3 linked regions of the Homo sapiens genome follow. The protein of the gene in region 2 purifies or fractionates together with the protein of the main gene of each other region. This does not show direct contact. Each region holds a gene or a part of one and is shown on either strand. Other genes may lie near its edges. The genes, in order: WDTC1, ZPLD1 and GNPTG.

What was found.
Region 1: the proteins of ZPLD1 (region 2) and WDTC1 purify together in Homo sapiens (affinity purification with mass spectrometry; one large-scale study listed by BioGRID and IntAct). This does not show direct contact.
Region 3: the proteins of ZPLD1 (region 2) and GNPTG purify together in Homo sapiens (affinity purification with mass spectrometry; one large-scale study listed by BioGRID and IntAct). This does not show direct contact.

The regions. Positions count from the first base shown.
Region 1 is NC_000001.11:27,293,539-27,297,189, reverse strand, and holds part of WDTC1 (WD and tetratricopeptide repeats protein 1), read right to left. Parts: intron 3,169-3,651; coding exon 3,074-3,168; intron 2,677-3,073; coding exon 2,561-2,676; intron 865-2,560; coding exon 789-864; intron 143-788; coding exon 34-142; intron 1-33. UniProt on the Homo sapiens protein: May function as a substrate receptor for CUL4-DDB1 E3 ubiquitin-protein ligase complex.
Region 2 is NC_000003.12:102,465,942-102,469,592, forward strand, and holds part of ZPLD1 (zona pellucida-like domain-containing protein 1 isoform 2 precursor), read left to right. Parts: intron 1-3,022; coding exon 3,023-3,194; intron 3,195-3,651. UniProt on the Homo sapiens protein: Glycoprotein which is a component of the gelatinous extracellular matrix in the cupulae of the vestibular organ.
Region 3 is NC_000016.10:1,354,823-1,358,473, forward strand, and holds part of GNPTG (N-acetylglucosamine-1-phosphotransferase subunit gamma precursor), read left to right. Parts: intron 1-3,651. UniProt on the Homo sapiens protein: Non-catalytic subunit of the N-acetylglucosamine-1-phosphotransferase complex, an enzyme that catalyzes the formation of mannose 6-phosphate (M6P) markers on high mannose type oligosaccharides in the Golgi apparatus.

The sequences.
Region 1 (3,651 bases), on a different chromosome or scaffold from region 2:
GCTTGGAGGGCTGGACAAGCCAGCTGGCCTCACCTGACATGTCCCCTACTCTCCGGCAGCCGGAAGCCATTGCTATGAAGGTGCAGGCCATTGGACACACCGTTGGACACACCGTTGGTGGACATCTTGCCATTCTGGACTTCTGGCAGGAGATAGTGAGAAAGTGACAGCAACAACTCAGGAAGAGGACCCATTTCTTCCTGGCAGCCCTCTAGCTTCCATCACGGGGTCTGATGGTTCCATCGTGGGACTGTTCTCCCAGAGTAAGATCCATTCCCAGAAAGCAAGTTCTGACATAAAGAAAAGCCCGTGCGCCCTCTGCTGGCTGGCGAGGGACACAACTTCACCGTGGCATTACTCAGCTGGGGCTGGGGCTGGGGCTAGGGCTGGGGCTGGGGCTAGGGTTGGGGCTGGGGCTAGGGCTGGGGCTGGGGGTGGGAATGGAGTGAGGAGGTGCCTAAATCAACTGTAGGCCCCAGGAAGAAATCAATGAGAAGACTGGGCCAGGATACAAAGGAGAGGGGAACTATTTCAGGTTCTCAAGAGCCAAGCCATGGAAGGAACCTGTCTTTTCAGAGGGAAGCAAAAAGGGCAGTGATGCAAAGCTCTTGAAGAGATCTCTGCTCTATTGTCATCCTCTTTCTTACTGCATAGGTGGGGTTATTTCAGAGATCTGCTATTTTTGGAGGATCACGGTCCAGAGTAAAGGGCAGGCTTCTCAGCAGGTGTAGCATGCACTTAAGCTCCCCTACACCGCCGCAGTAGAGATACCCTAAGGGAGAACTTACCCCCCGAGGAGTGGCATTTTCTAGGCAAGAGGAAGGTGTACGGCCGCTGCTTGTAAGTCAAGTCAAACAAATAGACCTAGAGTTGAGGGGGGCAAAAAAAGAGATGGAAGCTGTGAGGTAAGGATGTGGTTGAACCAGTAAGCAGGTCTTGGTTTCTCAAGAACTAGAGTCTTGGAACACAGTGAGTGTTGAGCATAGAACAATCAAGCTATCCTAAGAGGTACTTCCAGCAAACCTCAGGCTGGAAAATCTTCCTAGCTCTAGCATTCAGGGTGGGCTATCTGATCTACCCAAAGTCCTGCTTGAAATACTATCATTAATTAGAATCACATTTGGCTGGGCATGGTGGCGTAGCCTGTAATCCTAGCACTTTAGGAGGCTGAGGCAGGAGGGTGGTTGCTTGAGCCCAGGAGTTTGAGACCAGCTTGGGCAACATGGCAAAACCCCGTCTTTACAAGAAATACAAAAACTAGCCAGGTGTGGTGGCGTGTGCCTGTGGTCCCAGCTACTCAGGAGGCTGAGGTGGGGGAATCACTTGAGCCTGGGATGTCGAGGCTGCAGTGACCTGAGATTGTACCACTGCACTCCAGCCTGGGTGACAGAATGAGACCCTGCCTCAAAACAAACAAACAAACAAACAAAATAGAAGGTCAGGTGCAGTGGTTAATGCCTGTAATCCCAGCATTTGGGAGGGTGAGGTGGGCGGATCACCTGAGGTCAGGAGTTCGAGACTAGCCTGACCAACATCGTGAAACCCCATCTCTACTAAAAATACAAAATTAGCCAGGCGTGGCATGTGCCTGTAATCCCAGCTACTTGGAAGGCTGAGGCAGGAGAATTGCTTAAATCCAGGAGGCAGAGCGGAGGTTGCAGTGAGCCGAGATCGCACCATTGCCCTCCAGCCTGGGCAACAAGAGCGAAACTCCAACTCAAAAAAAAAAAACAAAAAACACGTCACATGTTTAAAAAGATGAAGAAGTCCTCAAAGGTCACAAAGCCAAATGTTTACCCTAGCACTACTCCTGAGCTTTTCATGATTCCTTGGACAGGTCCAGGAATGTCTGGCTTATCCTCACCTATTCTGCATCCCGCTTCATTTGTATATATTTGGGCCTTGCCTTGTAATGTCATTAACTGTTTCGTTTGTCATGTCTCCCATCAGCCTGGGGATGGATCATATTTCCCACTTGTCTCTATTATATTTATAATAATGCGAGTCCCAGAGTAAGTGCTCAGTGTTGGTAGAGTAAATAAATGTATGCAAGGCTTACTAAATATCCTGAGAGCACACAAACAGAAGGTTTAGCAACCTGCCATTATCAAAGAACACTTCCCAAAGCTGGCACTAACCCACAGCTTGCTCTGAGCTGCATGCTCTGAGCCCCAGGGATTTCCTCCTAGGAAAATAGCAGACGAGGAAACTGAGGCTCAGAAAAATAAAGAGACTTGCTCAAAGTCACAGTAAACAGCTGCTGAACAGCAGGCCAGCATTTGAACAGAAGTCTGTCCATTCCAAAGCCTATATTCTTAACCAAAATGCCATACTATCATATTTCTATCTAGTTCATTAAGAAAAAATGAAATAAAAAGACTGAGCTAGGACATCTCTCTGGGAACTCCAATGATGCCACATCACCCCCACATTTCAATGTAACATCATTTACCATAAGGCTGTTGTGTCTTGTCTGCCTCAGCAGTGAACATAAGGTACATGCCCCTGGCTGCTGGGCATGGAATGGTGATGGGGCAGAACCACCTTATGCTGTACATACCTGTTCCCCCCCCATGTTGACTAGTAGCTCTGTGCCATTGGGGCTGAAGGTCACATAGGTGGCAACCAGCACTCTCAAACGGTTGTTGTAGTCAGGAAGCTTCACTGGCAGGTGACCTGCAGGGAATAGCCCAGTCATACTAGGGTCCCAGTCCCTTTCAAAGGGGCATGAGATTGTGTGAAGTCAGTCATATCAAAAATTATACCAATCAACTTTAGCATAAAAGCAGCTACAAGTGTTGAGCCCTTACTATATGCACTGGGCTAGTTGCTTTATATATTTTATCTCATTTAGTCATTATAACCCCATTTTACTTAACCTTGATGAGTTTCTTTTCTGTAATTTGCTGAAGGTGACATAGCTTGTCAATGGCAGAGTTGGGATTAAAACTCAGGTCTGTCTGACTCTAAAACCCTTGCTCTTGACCACCATGCCATGCTGTCTCCCTGGACTGCCCCCAAAAGAGTCAGCATCTAGCCGAGAGTTTGGGGCCAGAGCTGTGCTGAGCGCTACCTGCTACGTAATACTGGGCTGCACCGTCCGGAAGGGGTTTCTGCCGGTCACAGAAGGTGTGCACACCCGCTGAAGGGCTCTGCTTCATGCTCTTTCTGGTGGGAAGGAAAATCATATAGGTTAAAGTTACAGCACTGCCCCTGGCTAGACCAGACCACACTCACTAGACGAAAACTTACATTTGTATCTGAGACATACAGGAGGTATTTTTCCTCCTTACCTAAGCAACCCCAAAGGCCCACCAACTAGACAATTACAGACATATACATTACAGTGCTTTACCAGGTAGGTCCTATAAGCTGTCTGGGTCTTCATGACCATCTTATTTTTCCCATTTTACAAACAAGCAAGCTAAGGTTCAAGACCCGCTCCAAGCCATGCAGTGTGTGAGGGGCAGCAGTGGTCACCAAGCCCATGAATGAAAATAAACAGGCGACATTCCTGCATCCATCCCAAGAATCATGGAAAGCCCAGGCTGGAGAGGCAACTCAGGTCTGAGAGTGCTGTGGGGGTTCTGAGTGTTATAAGAACTAGCAGGAAATATTATATACAGTGATTTCTTTAAGAAAGACACTATA
Region 2 (3,651 bases):
TGGAGAAATACACACCTAGAAGGAAAGGGCACTACTTTGAATGGAAACTGCTATCCCCAGGGCTGGGGAATCTGAAGAAAAAACAGTAGAGAATGCTCAGAGCCTCAGAAGTGGCAGATCTCATAAAGTACCAGGAAAAGTATACCTTCTAAAGGTAAAGGAATCGCCTGGGAAGGCAGGGGCTCTGTCCTTGGTGGCAAGGCTGGTGAATAAACCTCAGGAACCCAGGGCTGATGGTAGAACCCTGTGAATATCTTTTAAGTTCAGTCAGCTGCACAGTTCTGCTATATTCAAAGAAAGTTGTTATTGAAAAACAGAGGAGGGAGCCCTTGAGTTGGGGAAACCCTTAAGGAAGGTATTTACCATTCCACATTGCCTTAGGGGTCCTAAAAATTTTAGGTTTAGGGAAATCCAACTCTTTCAAACTTGAATGATAAACAGATGCAGGTATTTCTTGCAGTGTTCCAATATTCTACAGGAAAAATATCGAAAATGGCAGAAAAGAAAATTTAAAGGTGAATTAAACTCACCAGAAAAATGCTGCCATGGAATATATAATATATACATTCCCACATTAATTTTTAAAAAGCAAAAAGCATCATGGTTATGAAGATAGAATTATGAGAACTTAGGTAAGTAAGGATAGGACAGTAAAAGCCATGGCTATGGAAATGTGTAAAGGAAACTGGGATAAGTGAAAATAAACAGAAATACAAAAAAATGTGTGAGAGGAAGGGACATGTAATTAGAAGGCATTCAAAGGAGTGCAGATCACAGCAGAAACAGTGTGGGACATGAAAGATAAGTATAAGAAATACAAATAAAAATAAACAAATATGAAGGAAAATAAAAAGAGGATTAAGTAAGAAAGATAGAAATAAAAAGGTGAGAAAGGGAATTCGATATATGTATAATATGCATAATTAGAATTGTCCCCCCAAAAGCCAAAATAATAGAACACATTGTTTAAAAATATAATCCAGGAACACTTTCCTAAATTAAAAAAAAATCTTACATTGATATAATGAAATGATGCCCTGGATGAAATTGAAGATTTCATTAAGTGGAAACCAGGGGAAATATAAAAAGACATAGAAATAAAATTTAAAAATTAGAATTTTACCTCTTACAAAACTTACTTCTGGTGGCCAACAAGTAAGTAAGGAAGTAAGGATACAGAAAATCTAAACGACATACGCAATAAGCTATATACAGAGAGACAGCAATTTATAACGATATCAAAAACCAGAAAGTCCTCACCACTTGGAAGTTGTAAAACCCATAAATAAGACTTGTATCAAAAATGAAAATATGAACCAATGTTTTGGAAGAAGTTAAGAAAAAGTTGGTTCCTTGAAAAAATACATTAATAGAGAATCACAAGCTAATCACGTCAAGAAAAAAAGGGATAAATGACAAATACAAAAAGATAAGCCGGGAATCAACATGGAAATGAGCAGAGTATGGTTCTATCAGATATCACAATCAATAAAATGTCACAATTATTAAAGGAATGTGATATTATGCAAAGCTAGACACATAGACAAAAGTCACAGAACAGTAAACTGAGAAATAGATCCCCAAACATATGGGAATTTAGTGTAAGATAGAGTGTGGTACCACAAATCAGTGGGATAAGTAGATTTTTTAAAACAGTGTTGGACATGGATAACAGTAAGATAAAAAATAGTATTGGACCTATACTTCACTCAATATACCATAATAAAACCTAAATAGATTATTAATTTAAAGGTAAAAACTACAACTTTAAAACTGGTAGAATAAAACAAGAGAAATACCTTTAAAACTTTGGAGTAAGGAAACTGGCTTCAGTGTAAATACTAGAAGCCACAAAATAACATATTGAAAATTTAACTACGTAAGAATAAAACTGTACACACACACACACACACACACACACACACACACACACACGGAATGTCCAAAGCCAAATAACAAAGGGAAACAATTTGCAACTTATATAACAACCAGTAACCACTTTTCTTAATACATAAAAGAACTCATAAGAATCAGAAAGAAAATGGCCAAGAACACAACAGAATTGATCAAAAGACACAAACCATTTTCAGATAAAGAAATGCAAATGACTATAAGGTATGTGAAGATACACAAACTCATTAATTATAAGAAAATACAAGTTAAAATTATAGGGTGATAGTTCATTTTTACTCTCAAATAGGGAATAATAAAAAATTTGATCCATACATTTCGCTGATGTAGCTCTGGAGAAGTAAGCATTGTTTTCATATATTGCTTGTGAAGTCCAAAATTGAATAATATTTATATAGGGCAAAGTGACAATATCTATTAAATGATTATATGGATGTATTCTGTAGTTAATCCTGTACATGTTCAACATGATATATTGTAAGATTATTCATTATTAGTTTTTAAAAAGCAAAAGATTCAAAAACAATGCATGTACATAAATAGGAAACTGATTAAATAAACTCTGAAACATGTCCATGATGAAATACTATACAGCTGTGGAAAAAAATGAGGAAGCTCTCTAAATATTGATACGGAAAGATCTCTAACACTGCTAAATCTTTAAAAGGCGAGGTACCACATAGTGTAGACAATATGCTATCATTTGTTTAAGGAGGGAGGACAATAAGAATACATTGCTTCTGTTTCTATTTTCATATACCCTGGGAATGATGTGAAAATAAATGAAAATAAATGAGAATGAAAATAAGTGAGATCACCTCTGGCAGGTTTCTATGTATTTTAAATTATTTGGATTTTTGAACTACATGAAAGTATAATTCTTCTAACTATTAATGCAATCAGAAACTGATCTGTTTAAATTTTGTGATCCAGGTTTTATTGTCATATCTGTTGAATTAGCTTATGCTATGATTAAATATCTGTAACGTGGCATGGTTCTGTTAGCTCTTAATGTAATGGCGGAGTCTTAATACGGTAGAAATTAATTTACAAGTCCCAGTAGGTTGGTACTTTCCAGTGATGTCCTGTTTTCACGTTCCCTAAAATTTAGCTGTGACAAGGACCCTCAGACCACCGTCATTGAGAATGGCCGAAGCCAGCGGGGCCGGTTTTCTTTTGAAGTGTTCCGATTTGTGAAACACAAGAATCAGAAAATGTCCACTGTCTTCTTGCACTGCGTTACCAAGCTCTGCAGAGCAGATGACTGCCCCTTCCTTATGCCGGTATGTTTTTAAGGAACTTCATTTTAAGTTGTTGAATTGATCTAAGCTGAAAGGTTATCAAATGTCAGAAACTAAGTTCTGCATAGAAAGTGGATATGTGTTAGATCAAATAGTTTGAAGTAGGATTTATTCATTTGTCTAGTAAAGATCTGCTAAATATCCTACTTTGTGCCAAGCATTATACCGAGGATACAGAGATGAGGTGTGCACAAATTCTGAATTTAATTAGATTATTCTTTAGGATCATTAGCTAGTCACAGAAGAAATCAAGACAAAAATCTTATGGTGCAAAGGCAGACAAATATATGGGTTGTAGTAACAGGCAGTATTCACCATTGTGAGAGAGATGAAGCAGGAGAGGTTGAGAGGATTGTTAGAGATGAACTCCAGCTGTTACTTCGAAGAGGACTGAACCCCAGAGAACCAAAATCAAGAGTGTGAGAGACATTGCTGGCCA
Region 3 (3,651 bases), on a different chromosome or scaffold from region 2:
TTTTTTCCTGCGCCTGTGGGGTCAGGCGTGGATAGTCCCCCGCGTCTGTAGGGCTGGGCGTGGATACTCCCCCGCGTCTGTAGGGCCGGGCGTGGATTGTCTCCCACGTCTGTGGGGTGGGGCCGGGCGTGGAAAGTCCCCCGCGTCTGTGGGGTGGGGCCTGGATACTCCCCCGCATCTGCGGGGTGGGGCGTGGATCGTCTCCCGCATGTGCGGGGTCGGGTGTGGATGGTCTGCCGCGTCTGCGGGGTCGGGTGTGGATGGTCTCCCGCGTCTGCGGGGTCGGGTGTGGATGGTCTCCCGCCTCTGCGGGGTCGGGTGTGGATGGTCTCCCGCGTCTGTGGGGTCGGGTGTGGATCGTCTCCCGCGTCTGTGGGGTCGGGTGTGGATCCTCTCCTGCGTCTGTGGGGTCGGGTGTGGATATTCTACTTGTTTTTTCTGTCTTTGATGTAGCGCTCCTTCAACATCAACGTGTGAGGCGGATTGTGTGCAGTGGGTAGGAGAGTGTGGTCTGTGGAATGAGCTGAGCAGAAAGATAATCAGGCTGAGAAACTCAGGGGCGTGGTGATTGTGGCCTAGGGCTCAGAAGGTCCCCGCAGAAGAGTGTCTGCCAAGGAGAAGGAAGGGGTGGGCTTGCCAGGGCCGAGGCTGGTGGGGCTGGGCTGGGCAGTGGGCAGCTCCATGGCCTCCACCAGATGAGTCGGGAGCCTCGTCCCTTGACAGCAGGAGGAGCAGAGGTTGGTAGGTCTGTGATTTGGAGACAGTGTCCCGCTGTGGCATGGAGAGGGAATGGGGCACGGTCAGTGTGGTGGTCCTGCCAGCGCCCAGCAGAGTCCAGCATAGCCCAGCACACTGTCCAGGAGGGAGCTCTGCCTCGGTGGCGGTGGGAGGGAGCGGCCAGCTGGGCAGGACTCTGGGGCCTTGGCAGGGTCCTGGATCTGGGGAGGGGGCGGGGGAGGAGTAGAGTGGCCCCGGGATCCTGGCTAGAGAAGCCATGGCAAGTGCGGCTCCCAGCATGTGAGTTGCAGGGGTCAGGCTGGGAGCTTGCTTTCGGCTGGGGCCGGGCTGGGTCTGCCAGGCAGTCCCTGGTGCTTGGAGAGGGTCACGGTGGGCACAGGACTCACCAGGGGGTGCGTGAGGCCGGAGGGTGAGGGTGAGGTCCCCGGTGAAGTTCTTGGTGGCGTGTGGGGGTTGTGGAGGTTGGGAGGGTACTGGGACCAGGTGTGGGGCCGGGCCAGGGAGCAGCGTGGGAGGGAGGACCACCCTTGAGAAGGGATTGTCACCAAGAGACGCAGCCCTAGGGGGAGTGCTGCCCACCGAAGCCTGACCGGGGCAGAGGGGAAACGGAGTCCAGGCTCAGCCAAGCTGATGGGCCTTGAGCTGTGGCCTCGGGTGCAGGGACAGCTGGCAGTAAGGCCACCTGGGCCCGCGGGAGCCAAGGGCACCGGCGAGTGTCCTGGCCATGCAGGCCGTGAACACGGAGCCTGCAGGGGACGTGCGGGTGAAGCAGGAGCAGAGGAGAAGCCTCCCGGCAGGGGTGGTGGCATTTGGGGGTGGTGGTATTTGGGGGTAGAGACTCCCGCTCAGGTATGGCTGTGTCTGGCCCAAGAGGCGTGGAGGGGCCAGCCCCCACCTGTCTCAGGAGGACAGGCTGCTGAAACCTGAGGGCCAGGCGGAGGGGAGGGGCCGTGGCCGGGGTTCTGGTGTGGGCCAGCAGCAGAGGACCTGGGGTACTGGGCACTGCCAGTTGGGGGCTTGTGGTACCATCCCCTGCGGGAGGCTGCACCTCAGCCAGTAGGAGTCCACTGAAGCTGTGGACAGCACCCAGGCAGAGGCCTCCTCCCAGCTGGGGAGCCAGGCCAGGCCCCGCTGCCCTCACACAGTCCTGTTTAGACGGATGGCCCTGCAGGTGCAGAGCTAAGCCCGGCGCCCACGCCCCTCCTGGGGTGTCTCCAAGCAGTGTCTGCCTGGGGCAAGCCTGGGAACGTGAGTTCCCAGGACACAGGAGCTTGACCAGCCACCCTCCCAGCGGGAGTGTGAGAGCGGGAATCTGCGGGCGGGGGTCTGCGGGCGGGAGTGTGCGGGCGAGAGTGTGCGGGCGGGGGTCTGCGGGCGGGAGTGTGCGGGTGGCGGTCTGCGGGCAGGAGTCTGAGTGGCAGATGGGTGAGGGACACATCAGGGTCTCTGGGATGGCTCCAAAGGCTTCCCTATGTGCCTGTTGGGCAGGGCCCTAGGGCCAGACTGGAGGGACCAAGCCCAAGCACCCCAGGCTGTGGGACAGCAGGTGTGACAGGGCTGAGGTAGAGCCCCCAGCGGTCAGGCTGGGAGGACAGTGGGTGAGCCTGGGAGTAGGGGCCACCCAGATGGTATTTGACAAGGAAGGACCAGGACCTTTCTATATCCACAGCCCCTGTCCCCTGAGCAGGGCAGCCTGGCCATCTTGGTCTCCATCTGTCTTGGGAGGGGACAGCCCCAGGGGTGAGTGGAATGTCAGGGAACAGAAGGCCAGGCCGGGCCAGCACCCCAGAGGTCTCAGTGGCATTAGCCTCTGCCCTCCGGGGGCGGGGGCCAGGCTGAGGGTGGCCCCAGTGTGGCATCTGGCTCCTGGGCTGGCCAGATTCCCAGGGAACAGTCACCCAGCACCTCGTGTGTATTTCGACTTTATTATTATTATTATTATTATTATTAGAGCCGAGTGTCGCTGTGTCGCCCAGGCTGGAGTGCTGTGTCGCCCAGGCTGGAGTGCAGTGGCGCGATCTCGGCTCAGTGCCAGCTCCGCCTCCCGGGTTCACGCCATTCTCCTGCCTCAGCCTCCTGAGTAGCTGGGACTACAGGCGCCCGCCACCATGCCCGGCTAATTTTTTGTGTTTTTAACAGAGACGGGGTTTCACCGTGTTAGCCAGGACGGTCTCGATCTCCTGACCTCGTGATCTGCCCGCCTCGGCCTCCCACAGTGCTGGGATGACAGTCATGAGCCACCGCGCCTGGCCTCGACTTTATTATTAATACGGTAAAACTACAGAGAGTTTGAAACATCAGTCTGGGGCGTCCTCCTCTAACCAGTGCACTTGCTGCTGCAGCGCAGGCCCTTCAGGGGACGGGGATGGGGGCCAGTCCCCTCCCTGCCTCCACGGCCCAAGCCCCAGCCTTCCCCACAGTCCTGGAGGATGGCCCGTGGCTGACAGTCTCGGTGGGCGCTGTGTTAAGGTGGCGTCCCCAGCCAGGTCCCGACTCCCCAGCTTAAAGAACAGGGTGGCTGCTGTGGCTTGACTCACGAGTTGCCACTGGCCTTGATGTGTACACGCCCTTGCTCTAGCACTGCCTGGGGCTGGCCTGGCTGGAGGGTAGGGACGCTGCACGCCTTCCCTCTTCCCCCAGGCGCTGGTGACACTGCCCTGCAACCGTCAGCACCATCATCTCCACAACTTGCTCTGTCCCCTTCAAACCCTGACTCCCAGCTGCCCCGCTCCCCCAGCCCCGGCACCCACCATTCTGCTGTCTCTGAACTTGGCTATTCATAGACGTCACATAGGTGACTCATAACTGTGTGCGACCTTTTGTGTCTGACCAACTCCTCTTGGCACAGTGTCCCCAAGGTCCCCCAGGCTGGAGGCTCTCAGTGCTTCCTTTTTATATGGCTGAGGACTGTTC